Linked DNA regions of Homo sapiens. The protein of the gene in region 2 purifies or fractionates together with the protein of the main gene of each other region. This does not show direct contact. Each region holds a gene or a part of one and is shown on either strand. Other genes may lie near its edges. The genes, in order: GALNT6, SLC39A10 and METTL9.

Region 1 (3,748 bases), on a different chromosome or scaffold from region 2:
CCTTTAAATTAGATTAAAATTCAATTTAACTTAGCCTCATTTTAAGTAACATCCGTGAAATCATGTGATATGCTTGTTCTATTTTTGCTAATACATTACTATTAAAATAAAAAATGTTCTCCAGTGCACCACTGGAAATCATCTTGCAGGCCAGTGGTACAGGAAACTGCTGTAGAATGACTGTCTTCACCTACATATGCCAGCGGGCTTGTTCAGTGACCCACACCACTCCTTTCCCCACTCTGGCTCTGTTTTCAGTGCCTCTCACTTACTAGTGCTGGGCACCTAGTTTTGGGGTCACTGGAAGGTGGTAGGATCAGAGTGGTAGCTTCTGGGCAGAGGATGCATTGAAGATAGAAGTTGAGTGCAGGTGATGGGATGTGCTGGAAAATTTTCCACCCTCACCCCTAAATATCCCCCAGCAGCTAGCCTCCTCAAGCCTCCTCTGATGAACAACCCTCCCTCCCATCCCCTTCTCACACCCAGCACCGATGCCTCGTTCTCTCCGGATGTCCCTTATTCAGACCTTGTGTGTGTTATGCCTTCTCCTCCGACTGGAAGCTTCCTGAGGGCAGGGATGGTATCTCCTCCCTCCCAGTCCTCAGGAAAGGACTCTTTAGGGTAGAGAAAAGGAGCCGGTGAGGAGAGGAGATGCTCCGGAGATGGGTGGGCTGCATACCTGGTTGCCGCCAAGGCCGTGGCAGGAGTACATGATGAGGGGCTTCCCCCCGCGGTTGTTCTCACCCACATCCAGGCATTGGTTGGTGCCGAGGTTCTTGATCTGCAGAAGGGTGAGCAGAGAGGGGAAGCAGGATGGCACAGTCAGGAGGTTCCTCATGTGTGGTATGGGGCCCCACTGGAACAAATTCCAGTCAACTGCAACAAATTTGCATGGCTGGATTTCCCCCGTCATTTCTCTCCTCTGTGCGTTAACCCACATGCCTGGAGCTAACAGCAAAGTGAGCTGCAGAGCCCCAGAGGCTGGAAAGGGCAGGACTGAACCCCTCTGTGGGGCAGGCAGGGAACCTCCCAGGATGCCAGGTCCCTGGAAGAAGCCCTCAGCACGTGGGAGTTTCCTTATAAGCAGTGGTTCTCAAATGTGAGCCCTGGACCATCAGCATCACCTGGAGACTCGTGAGAAATGCAAGTTTTCAGACCTCCCCTGAGTCCTTCTGAATCAGGAACTCTGGGGATGGGCCCTAGCGTTTTACCGTGCCTTCCTGGTGATTCTGATGCATGCTAATGTTTCAGGACCACTGCTTGTGGGTTGTTTTGCCCTTTATAAGGTTTTTTGCTATCTCTAGAAGCCCCAACGTGGCCTCTCAGTCCTCCTCCTGGATAAAGGAGGGTGCAGGGCAAAACTCAATTCTTGTTTGTCATCCATCTGTGGGGTCAGTGGTCTTGAACTTCTCCAAGGGGTGCTGTGGTGATGGGCAGGCAGGTTGGTTCTCAAGACTTACGGCACCATAGAAGGTGGGCGTCAGGTCAGGAACAAACATCTCTGGGTAGACATTGTGCAGGTACCAGGAAAAGTTGTGACAGTGCAGTTGTTCCCTCAGCTGCAGTCGTTCCGAAATGTCACCGAAGGATTTCTGTCAATCAAGCCAGCCCCCTAAGGATCAGTTCCACCAGTTTTTTTTTTTTTTTTTAAGAGGGAGTCTCACTCTGTTGCCCAGGCTGGAGTGCAGTGGTGCAATCTCGGCTCACTGCAACCTTCCCCTCCTGGGTTCAAGCGATTCACCTGCCTCAGCCTCCTGAGTAGCTGGGACTACAGTCGCGCACCACCACGCCCAATTAATTTTTGTATTTTTAGTAGAGATGAGGTTTCACCATGTTGGCCAGGCTGGTCTCAAACCCCTCACCTTAGGTGATCTGCCCGCCTCGGCCTCCCTAAGTGCTGGGATTACAGGCGTGAGCCACCACACCCAGCCAGTTCCACCAGTCTTTGACCTTCCTGTCTGGGCTGAAGTAGTGCAGATAGCATGGAGCGCCTGGGGCTACTGTCTCTCATGTTCATTCCCACTCAGGACCTGTTAAAGATACTGGCCCAGCCCTCACATCCAATCCCAAAAACCCCGCCTTAGCTTTGGAGTCCCCTGCTTATCGGTCCATCTCCTGTGACTCCCCAGACAATTATGTCCCACTCCCCAGTGCCGAGGCTCTCAGAGCCATTCCTCCAAAGCCTCCAAAGCCTCCGTAAGAGGCTTTTCCTCCAAATCTCCTTTCCCTCCCTTCCCCTCCAAAGGGATGCAGAGACTCTATGCGTAGGGACAACATTCTCTAGCTTTTGAAACCTATGTGCCTTGTGGCCTTCTCCTGGGCTCTAGCTCACAGGTCCCTGAGGGTGAAGGGAGGCGCCAGATGGTAGAGATGAGGTGGGTCCCAGCCATTAGGCCCATGAACAGGGTCTGGGGGCCGTACTTCTCTTCATCTAAACCTCTCCGAGAACCATTTCCTCTCACCTCTTGGGCCATCTTTGCTGCCTGCAGATTTCTCCTATAGAAAATCTTCTTGTAGCTGTCCATCCAGACCTCTGCCAGGCGCACTTGATTGCGAGCAATGACACTAGTGCCCTTGGGGAAGGTGTGGGGGCTCTTGGTCCGGAACACATGGCCTACGACAGAGCAGGGGATGATCTCCAGCTGGCCCCCACACTGCCACACCTGATGTAAGAGGAGACAGGATGAGGCCTTCAGTGGGCTAGGTGAGACAGTCTCCCCATAAGCAGCTCTATTCTATTCCCAGAGCACCAGACCCCAGGTCCAAGGACTTGGGCAAATGCTGCTCTCTCTCCCTGGGAAAAAGGATACCGACCAGGCTTCTTCCTAGGCCATGACTACACGATCCCAGGCTTTCTGATGTTGGTTCACTCTGACTTAAGCACAGGGAGACTGCAGGGTCCTGTGTTTACCAGGGCCCACTTTAGGGAAAAGCCTGCTGGTTAATTTTTGTTACCTGTGCCTGTATACCTACTCTGAGCTCTGATCACTTGGCTTTTTGACCTGGAAATGTGAGTTTATCAGCTCCCTCAGGTGATAAAAACCAGAGCATCAGTCTGTTAATTAATAGCAAGGATAGTTGGCTGCTAGGTGGCTAGTGGTAGTCACTTGGGCCCTTAGCACACTGGCTGCCTAGGAAGGTGAACAGAGGTCAGAGGCTCATGGAGGAGCCTAGGATTGGGCCGCTGGGAGTTGGGGTGACTGGCAGGTGACCCTTTTCTATGCTGGTGGGCTGGCTGAAGACATCCCTCCCACTGGTTTCTTCTTTTGGGTTTTAGGTGGGAAAGTATGTTGTTATTCATTTTAGTGTGGCAGCAACAGAAATACATAATCGTTATAGTAACAGCAGGCATCAATTACGTGCTTAATATGCATCAGGCACCGTGAGAGGTGACTTCATAAATGAGCTCATCTACTTACTAATTACTTTTCCATGGCATGGAGATTTGTGTAGGTTTCATGGAGAGGCAATCCTTGCTTCCTGACCTAATCCTGATTTGCCTAATTCCTGGAATCTCTCAGAGTTCTGGGGTCCACCAGAGTTGGGGCCACCATCTTCTCTGACTGTTATGAAGGGCTTATTGTACATAGGTAGGGAAACTTCAAAGGTTACCAGGGCATGTGTCCTTTGAACTGGGAAGGGGAGCCTGATTTTTCCAGAAAAAGGATGATGACTGGTTACTCATCTGTTTTTTTTTTCTAGCCCTAGTTGTGAACATACTAACCTGTTTCTATCTTCACCCTAACCC
Region 2 (3,748 bases):
AGGTACTCAAATATTTGTACAATAGAGTCCTAATACAAAACAATACACAGGAGTCTTGACTTGAGGCTTTCAATTGCATACTAAGTTAGAAGGAACTAAGTTCTACATCTCCAGCTTTTCCATTACTTGCTTTTTCTTAATTATGTACAATTTAGATACACATCCAAAAAGAAAACAAATACAAACCTATTCTAGTTTTGCTCCAAGAATGACTCAGTTCCAATGTAAAATTAGAGGACTTAACAGCAAAAGGCATAAATAAAAGTTTCTTTTAAAAAACAGTATAACCTACCATACTTTTTGTTTTTTTCTAACATGTGTTTTGTGTCACTGTTACTTAGAATAGGTACTCGAGTGAACGACCCTTCCAACGGAGGGCTTCAGGTTCTGCAGTGATATTTCTTCCTCGTGCCAGATCCTTAGTACAGCCCATGTGGACAGGCTCCCACGTGAACATTTCTTTACAGAAGCCACAGGAAGACCTTGAACGTCATGTTGCTCGCGCCCTGGCAAGGCCCCCGCCCTTCTTAGCTGGGGCGTTCGAGGGACCCCAGGAGAGGCAAGGAGTTCAGCAGATTCCCAGACCCGGAGAGGCGGTGCGCGAAGGTTCCTCTACGCGATCCCCCTGCCGCGCCCCACATCGCTCTCCACCTAAGGGCTTTCCGGAACAAAGCCGTGCGGCCGCGCCACCTCCGGCCCACCCGGCCTGTCCCACCGACCCGGCCCCACCCTCACCCTCAGCTCCAGGGACCCCCAGCAGGCCGAGATCTTCACACCCCCGCGCTCCGCCTCGGCTTTTCGGTTGGTCCGGGAGAAAACTAGTAGGAGCAGAGGCGCCGCCGTCCGTTAGCCTCGGTCCGGAACAGCGGTGCCGAGGCTCCATCCCGGGGTCCCCTCGCCCCATTACAGACCAGAGAGAAGGACTGGAGAAGAAAAAACCGGGGCGCTGGTCGCCAAGCCCCCGAAGACCTGCCTACAGATCCCCAAAGCCTCGCCCGCCCGCGCCTGCGACGCCATCCGCGGCCGGCGCGCAGCCCCCTAACCGCCGCCACCCGCCCAGCGGTCACTCCCCCACCCCGGGCGCGGCCCGCGAGGCTCCGCCAACCTCCACAGGAAGGTGAGGGGGGCGCGAGGCTCCGCACGCGAAGTGGATGCCGCCGGCTCCCGATCCCGCGGCCCGCAGCAGCCCAGACCGCACACGAGGAGCCGCGGCGCCCAACACTCTGCCCACCACGCGCTCTGCTTCGGCTGGCCGCCGCCGACTGCAGCAGCTGCGGGAACCCCAGCGCCCGCATCCCCGAGGGAACCAGCCCCGACTCCCCGGTTCTGTTCTCCCTTTCTACCCCCACGCCGTCCCGGGACTCGCAGTCTCCGCCGCGCACGGGGCCGGTTCTGGGGGAGGGAATGTAAACAAATCGGGGTTTTATAGTTACCTCACACTCGAGTGCCGTGTGCATCTCCTCTCCGCTCGGTACCAAACCCCGGCTGCACCAAATCGTGTATTCACCAAAGCAGACTGCGCTAACTGCGTCGCAGAAACCGGCGCGTCTGACACCCTGCTACGCTTGCGGCGTACAAGGTCCACTCAGCTCCCTGCGCAGCCGCACCCCGTCCGCCTATGGGTGCTACGCTATGGGCGTACACGCGCCACCTAGCTATTCACTTCGGATAACGCCAGTTGCGTAAAGGAGTCGCACTACTCACGGATTCCACATGGATCGTCCGAGGAATAGGAAATTCAAGTCTACGCAAACTGCGGAGTTCCGTGGCTCCGCGCTAGTTTTGTTCCAAGAAAGAACGCCGCGGGGGAGTTGGGGCGGCTTCTTAACGCATGCGTGGAGCGCCCTTTATCATTCGCCTTTTCTCCTGGCTTTCGAACGTCGGTTGCTGAGGCCTTGGGCAAGGCGAATGAGTAATGGAAGCTCTAAACCCAAACGCTTTAGCCAAAAAGCTTCAGAGTGATCAACTGGAATGTTCATCTGTATACGAGTTAAACATCTACGTTAAGTTAACCCCGCCCCCTTTGTTAAAGTAACCTTTTCAGTCTCTTAGGGCAACAGCGAACTTTATTTAGTGCTAAGTGCGAGGTGTTTTGCCTAGCTCCCCTTCCCACCCATTTAATTCTAAAGCACACTTACTGCGGGTCTTCCAAACCTAAAAGAAAAAGTTGAGTCCTGAGAACATGTCACACATGTAGAGAAATTCTCGAGGCTTTTGGCAACTTTCCAAGGTCTTCACTCCTCTACTCCTCAACTGATCGACTATTTCTTAACACTCTATGACAAAAAAATCCCGATCCAGCCAAGCAGTTCCATGGACTTGTGCCTACACCGTGCTCATTCTTGCCCTTTGCTCACGCCATACATCCCATCTAAATTGTCTCCTCCCCTCTTAAGCAACCACCAACCCACATTTTCTTAAAAGGTGACTCTGGACGTCTTATTTTTGCTTCATTACTCTGCTTCCTGGCTCTTACTTAATCCACATGTTGAGGCGTATCTGCATTCCGCCTGGGGTGCCTGTGTTTCTATATCCAACCAGAATCTACTTAACACAGCGAGTTCTGGGGGTGCCTTACTGGTGTCTAGTAGAGAAAATAAAACCATGAACAGCAGTAATCGCAGGCTTGACTGTGTGTCAAGTACTCCACATATATATTAATTTAATCACCATAACACGGTGAGGTAGGAAACTGAGGCACACAAGACTTTAACTTGCCTGGTATCACAGAGCAGGTAGAGAAAAGAGTTGGGATTTCCAAACCCATTCAGTATGGACGGCTAGGTAGTCCCGCTAACCTGCATATTATACCTTCATGAAAGAAGGTTATTTTTTGTTTTGTATCTCTACAAAAAACATCCAAAACAACGAAAATGGTGCTTGATAAATGCCTACTGATTGCCATACGTAGTTCAGAACACTGAACTACTCATATGCCCTTTTCCTTGTTTGGAAAGCCAGAGCATGGACCTCACTCCTGCTTACAAAGGGAGAAGTCCTGAGGTGTGGAGAAAAGAGATTAAGCCTGAGTCCTAGTTTCAAGTCTCACCATTGCCACTAAATGTGAGACAATAGCTGTGGTCCTCAGATTCATTGATAAATTAAGGGGATCGTTTTAAATATATTCTAAGGTTCATCCTAGAACTAAAGTCCTTAGAGTTCATAAAATCATGATAGTACATCCTTTGTGTGCAAAGCATAAGAAGCTTCCAAATTAGCTTGATATTTTATGGCTCATACTTATTTTATTGAACACATTATTATCAACACCCTTAAAACATACATAACCTTTCTTTCAAATATCAATAAGATATAGCGCTTGCAGTCCTTACATTTTAGGGCACCTACACTGCTTTTTTAGTTATGGATATACAAGGCTAATGTTCAGCTGGTACACACAAGTACGGCTGAACCAACTAATCAAATACTGAAATACTTCAATGCAAGTTGGTTAACAGCTGCAACTCTGAGTGGTATCCCCCCATGCTTCTCACCCCTGTGCCAGTCCTTCCTCTCAAGATTCCCCAGACCTCCACATTTTAGGAACTAGTGGGTTAATACCTGGCTAAGATAGAGCCCTTTGGACCCAGCTCTTATTAGTCACTCCCATTCTACTTGGTTGGTGCCTATTCTTTACTAATTGTTACATATTTTAAATGTCATCCCTATAGAAAACTATGTGGTAAGCAACTTGAAAATAGAGACTGTGTCTCCTAACACTTTTTAAACTCACCCAAACATTTATTTA
Region 3 (3,748 bases), on a different chromosome or scaffold from region 2:
GAGCAGGGAAGTGGCTGGGAGGCCAGACTGGTCTCACAGACTTATTTTACAGCCTATGAAATAAGAATAGTTTTATATTTTTAAATGGTTACCAAGAAAATATCAAAATAACATTTTGTAATACATGAAGTTTCATTTATGGAATTCAAATTTATTTCAGTGTCTACAAATAAAGTGTTTTTTTTTTGAGATGGAGTCTCGCTTCGTCACCCAGGCTGGAGCGCAGTGGCCCAATTTTGGTTCACTGCAACCTCTGCCTCCCAGGTTCAAGCAATTCTGATGTCTCAGCCTCCCGAGTAGCTGGGATTACAGGTGAACACCACCACGCCCAGATAATTTTTGTAGTTTTCAGTAGAGATGGGGTTTCACTATGTTGGTTAGGCTGGTCTCAAACTCCTGACCTCAAGTGATCCTTCTTCCTGGGCCTCCCAAAGTGCTGGGATTACAGGCGTGAGGTACTACACCCAGCCCACAAATAAAGTTTTATTGAAAGAGAACTACCACATTCATTTACCTGTGGTCTATGAGCTCCCTGGCTACAATAGCAGCATATTTGCTACTGTATGGCCTGCAAGCCTAAAACATTTACTACGTGGCTTCTTACAGAATAAAGACTTTTTCCAAGAGAAATTCCCAGCTTCCTTAACAAACAGCTTTTTTTTTTTTTTGGAGACAGGGTCTCACTGTGTCACCCAGGCTGGAGTGTAGTGGCACAATCTCAGCTCACTGCATCCTCGACCTCCTGGGTTCAAGCGGTTCTCATGCCTCAGCCTCTCCATAGCTGGGATTACAGGCACGTGCCAGCACACCTGGTTAATTTTTGTAGTTTTAGTAGAGACAGGGCTTCACCATGTTGGCCAGGCTGGTCTTGAACTCCTGGCCTCAAGTGATCTTCCCACATCGGCTTCCCAAAGTGCTGGAATTACAGGAGTGAGCCACTGCAACCAGCCTCCAACAGCATATTCTTAATCACAGGTTGCAGGGTGGGTAGATTGACTCACTGGGAAGAAATAGAGGCAGGCAGTGAGAAACTAGTAGATATTGTCACTTTGCAATGTTGGCAGACTCAGAATTTAAAAAGACAACAACAAAAAACTTAGGATCTATTCTTTTTGATGCATTGCACCTAGTGCTTAAAGTTAATGCAACTATTATGGAGCTACTGAAACTTTGAAAGGACCCTTAGGCCCCAGGTTCTTGGTAATAATAGCGGTTCAGTAGCTTCTCAATTGATGGAGTGAAAAAATTGTTATAGAACTCGCTGAACCAAACCACAACGATTTCTCCGGGTGACATACTGCAAGGTTTTTTAAAAGCACAGATAACATTCAATATCTGGAATTATTAAGTTGTAACTTAAAATTGCAAGTATGTGTATATTTTTGTGACTTATTTTTTCACTTTCTTATATAAGCTCAGAACTGCGCTATGCCACAAGTGATGAAGAATTCAAGAAAGAATTAAAATCCTTTTTTTTCCCCCAAATGAAAAAATACTTGGACAGCATAGCCAGAGCCAAACACTGTGCTAAAGGACAGAGTGTTTCCTGTCCCTTTACCCCTCACTTACCCTGTGGAGGCAGACTGGAGTCAGGCATGAGTTAACAATGCTTCAAGGATAGTCAGCCAGCTAAGCCGGACAGACACTGATGGATTGGCGTCCTTCTCTGAACTGCCTTCGAGAGTCTGGAGGCCTTTGCAGCTGAATACCAAAGAGACTTCAGAAAGGATTTCTTTGCTTCCTCATAATCTGTGTTGAAACCCCAAGTGTTTGCTTCAGTTTCACAGAACACTAGAATCTCTTTCTTGTGCTGGATATACCAGGAGTCTTTATGTTTCTCTTTGAAGGTGCCCTAGAAGACCCTAATAGCTTCCAGTAAAAAGCTCTGTTGTGTAGACCCTCTGAAGCTTTGTTAAAATTTTAGGATTATCCTGTCCTATGGGGAGTGAGTATTTAGTATTTGCAATGAGGATTGCCAGTAATTGGTTATTAAATCAAAGCTGAAGCCATTTAATCTGTTTTAATTGATTCCCCTCATGGATATGAGGGTGCCTGTCACTGTACACATTGAAATCTCACATAAAGAGGTTATTGGGTTGAGTTTATATTGTTTGTGGGAAAATGGTGAATGGTCTGAATATTTACGCCTATGCTGTGCTTAAATGCAAGGTGTGCATGGTGAAATGTCTGGACTGAGTTGACTGCATTGTAAAATCTTAGAATGTGAATTTTGAATCCTTAGCTGTCAAGCTCTGTTGATGGAGTTGGTCTGGCCAACTTAGAAAAGATTCTGTGTTCATAGATCCTGAGCAGTGGAGCTTTTCTGATTGTTTTTGGTAGCCCTGAATGCCTTGGGTCTTTGATTACCCATTTCTTTTGAGAATGGCTGGATGCCTAGACCTACAGTTTGGTTTTTAGGCATTCCCTTGAACTGTACTTCTCCTCTGACCAGCCCTTGCCTTGGAGAGAAAGGGGAAGGAAATATGAAGAGCTACTGGCCTTCTATTGTGTGCCAGGCACTTCAAATATATTATCCCCAGTAGTCCACATAGAACTCTTGGAGGTTGGTGGTATCATCCGCACTTTACATACAGAAAAGTGAGGGTGAGAGAGAGAAGAGACTTGCTCACCAGCACAGAGTTAATGGATGATAGAGTTGGGCTTTGCACCCAGCTTTGGTTTCAAGGCAACACATTTTCTGCTGCTTTATGATGCCCCTCCTGGTAAACCTTGTGTTGTCTGAGGGGTGGTAAAAATAGGCTTGCCTTCTTTTTTTTTTTTTTTTTTTTTTTTTTTTTTTTTTTTTTTGAGAAACAAGTTCTTACTCTGTCACCCAAGTTGGAATGCAGTGGCCTGATCATATCTCACTGCAGCCTCAAACTCCTGGCCTCAGTACATCCTCCTGCCTCGGCCTCCTGAGTAGCTTCTAAATCTTTTGTAGAGGCAGGGTCTTGCCATGTTGTTCAGGCTGGTCTCAAACTCCTGGCCTCAAGCAGTCCTCCTGCCTCAGTCTCCCAAAGTGCTGGGATTACAGGCGTGAGCCACTGCTCCTGGCCTAGGCTTGCCTTCTGAATAGGAAACTGCCCTCATTCTAGTGAGGCCTCTGTGTAGACACTGAAGTTAGGTAGCTGTGTGCACAATACTTGTTGAAGATTTTGTAGTTTGTGAATTAGATGAGAATAAGACAGCTGCTTGAAGTTCTGGCCTTTATCTGGTTTGTGCATGCTTTTTTTAAGGCTTAAAGTTGAAAAAAGATTCTTACATGTATTGTCATTTTTTCCTGACATCAGCCATTCTCTAATTTTCCATCACCAAGTGGGTGTTTAATTGTTCAATCCTGTTCTGACATTAACTACCTGGAGTTAGGGTCACGCTTTACAGAGTTAAGAGCTCAGTCCCACAAGACTGCCCTCACTTCAGAGGCCAGCTGGAAGTCCTGGGTTCCCAGGCTGCCAGTGCTTTTGTCCACCTTGAACAAATTTGGGAGTTCCCACAACTCTACCTTCACCCTACCCCACCCCACCCCCTAATTTCCTATAATAGAATGACTCATAGAACTTAGGAAAACACAGGTGCGGTGGCTCACGCCTGTAATCCCGGCACTATGGGAGGCTGAGGTGGGTGGATCACGAGGTCAGGAGATCAAGACCATCCCGGCTAACAGGGTGAAACCTGGTCTCTACTAAAAATACAAAAAAATTAGCTGGGCGTGGTGGCACGTGCCTGTAATCCCAGCTACTGGGGAGGC

Evidence for each region.
Region 1: the proteins of SLC39A10 (region 2) and GALNT6 purify together in Homo sapiens (affinity purification with mass spectrometry; 3 studies listed by BioGRID and IntAct, with this or other methods). This does not show direct contact.
Region 3: the proteins of SLC39A10 (region 2) and METTL9 purify together in Homo sapiens (co-immunoprecipitation; 3 studies listed by BioGRID and IntAct, with this or other methods). This does not show direct contact.

The regions. Positions count from the first base shown.
Region 1 is NC_000012.12:51,356,670-51,360,417, forward strand, and holds part of GALNT6 (polypeptide N-acetylgalactosaminyltransferase 6), read right to left. Parts: intron 2,664-3,748; coding exon 2,463-2,663; intron 1,593-2,462; coding exon 1,461-1,592; intron 782-1,460; coding exon 680-781; intron 1-679. UniProt on the Homo sapiens protein: Catalyzes the initial reaction in O-linked oligosaccharide biosynthesis, the transfer of an N-acetyl-D-galactosamine residue to a serine or threonine residue on the protein receptor. May participate in synthesis of oncofetal fibronectin.
Region 2 is NC_000002.12:195,654,967-195,658,714, reverse strand, and holds the start of SLC39A10 (zinc transporter ZIP10 precursor), read right to left. Parts: upstream 1,490-3,748; 5' UTR 1,458-1,489; coding exon of another isoform or gene 1,106-1,457; intron 1,050-1,105; exon of another isoform or gene 905-1,049; coding exon of another isoform or gene 736-904; intron 1-735. UniProt on the Homo sapiens protein: Zinc-influx transporter. When associated with SLC39A6, the heterodimer formed by SLC39A10 and SLC39A6 mediates cellular zinc uptake to trigger cells to undergo epithelial-to-mesenchymal transition (EMT).
Region 3 is NC_000016.10:21,602,489-21,606,236, forward strand, and holds part of METTL9 (protein-L-histidine N-pros-methyltransferase isoform 1 precursor), read left to right. Parts: intron 1-3,748. UniProt on the Homo sapiens protein: Protein-histidine N-methyltransferase that specifically catalyzes 1-methylhistidine (pros-methylhistidine) methylation of target proteins.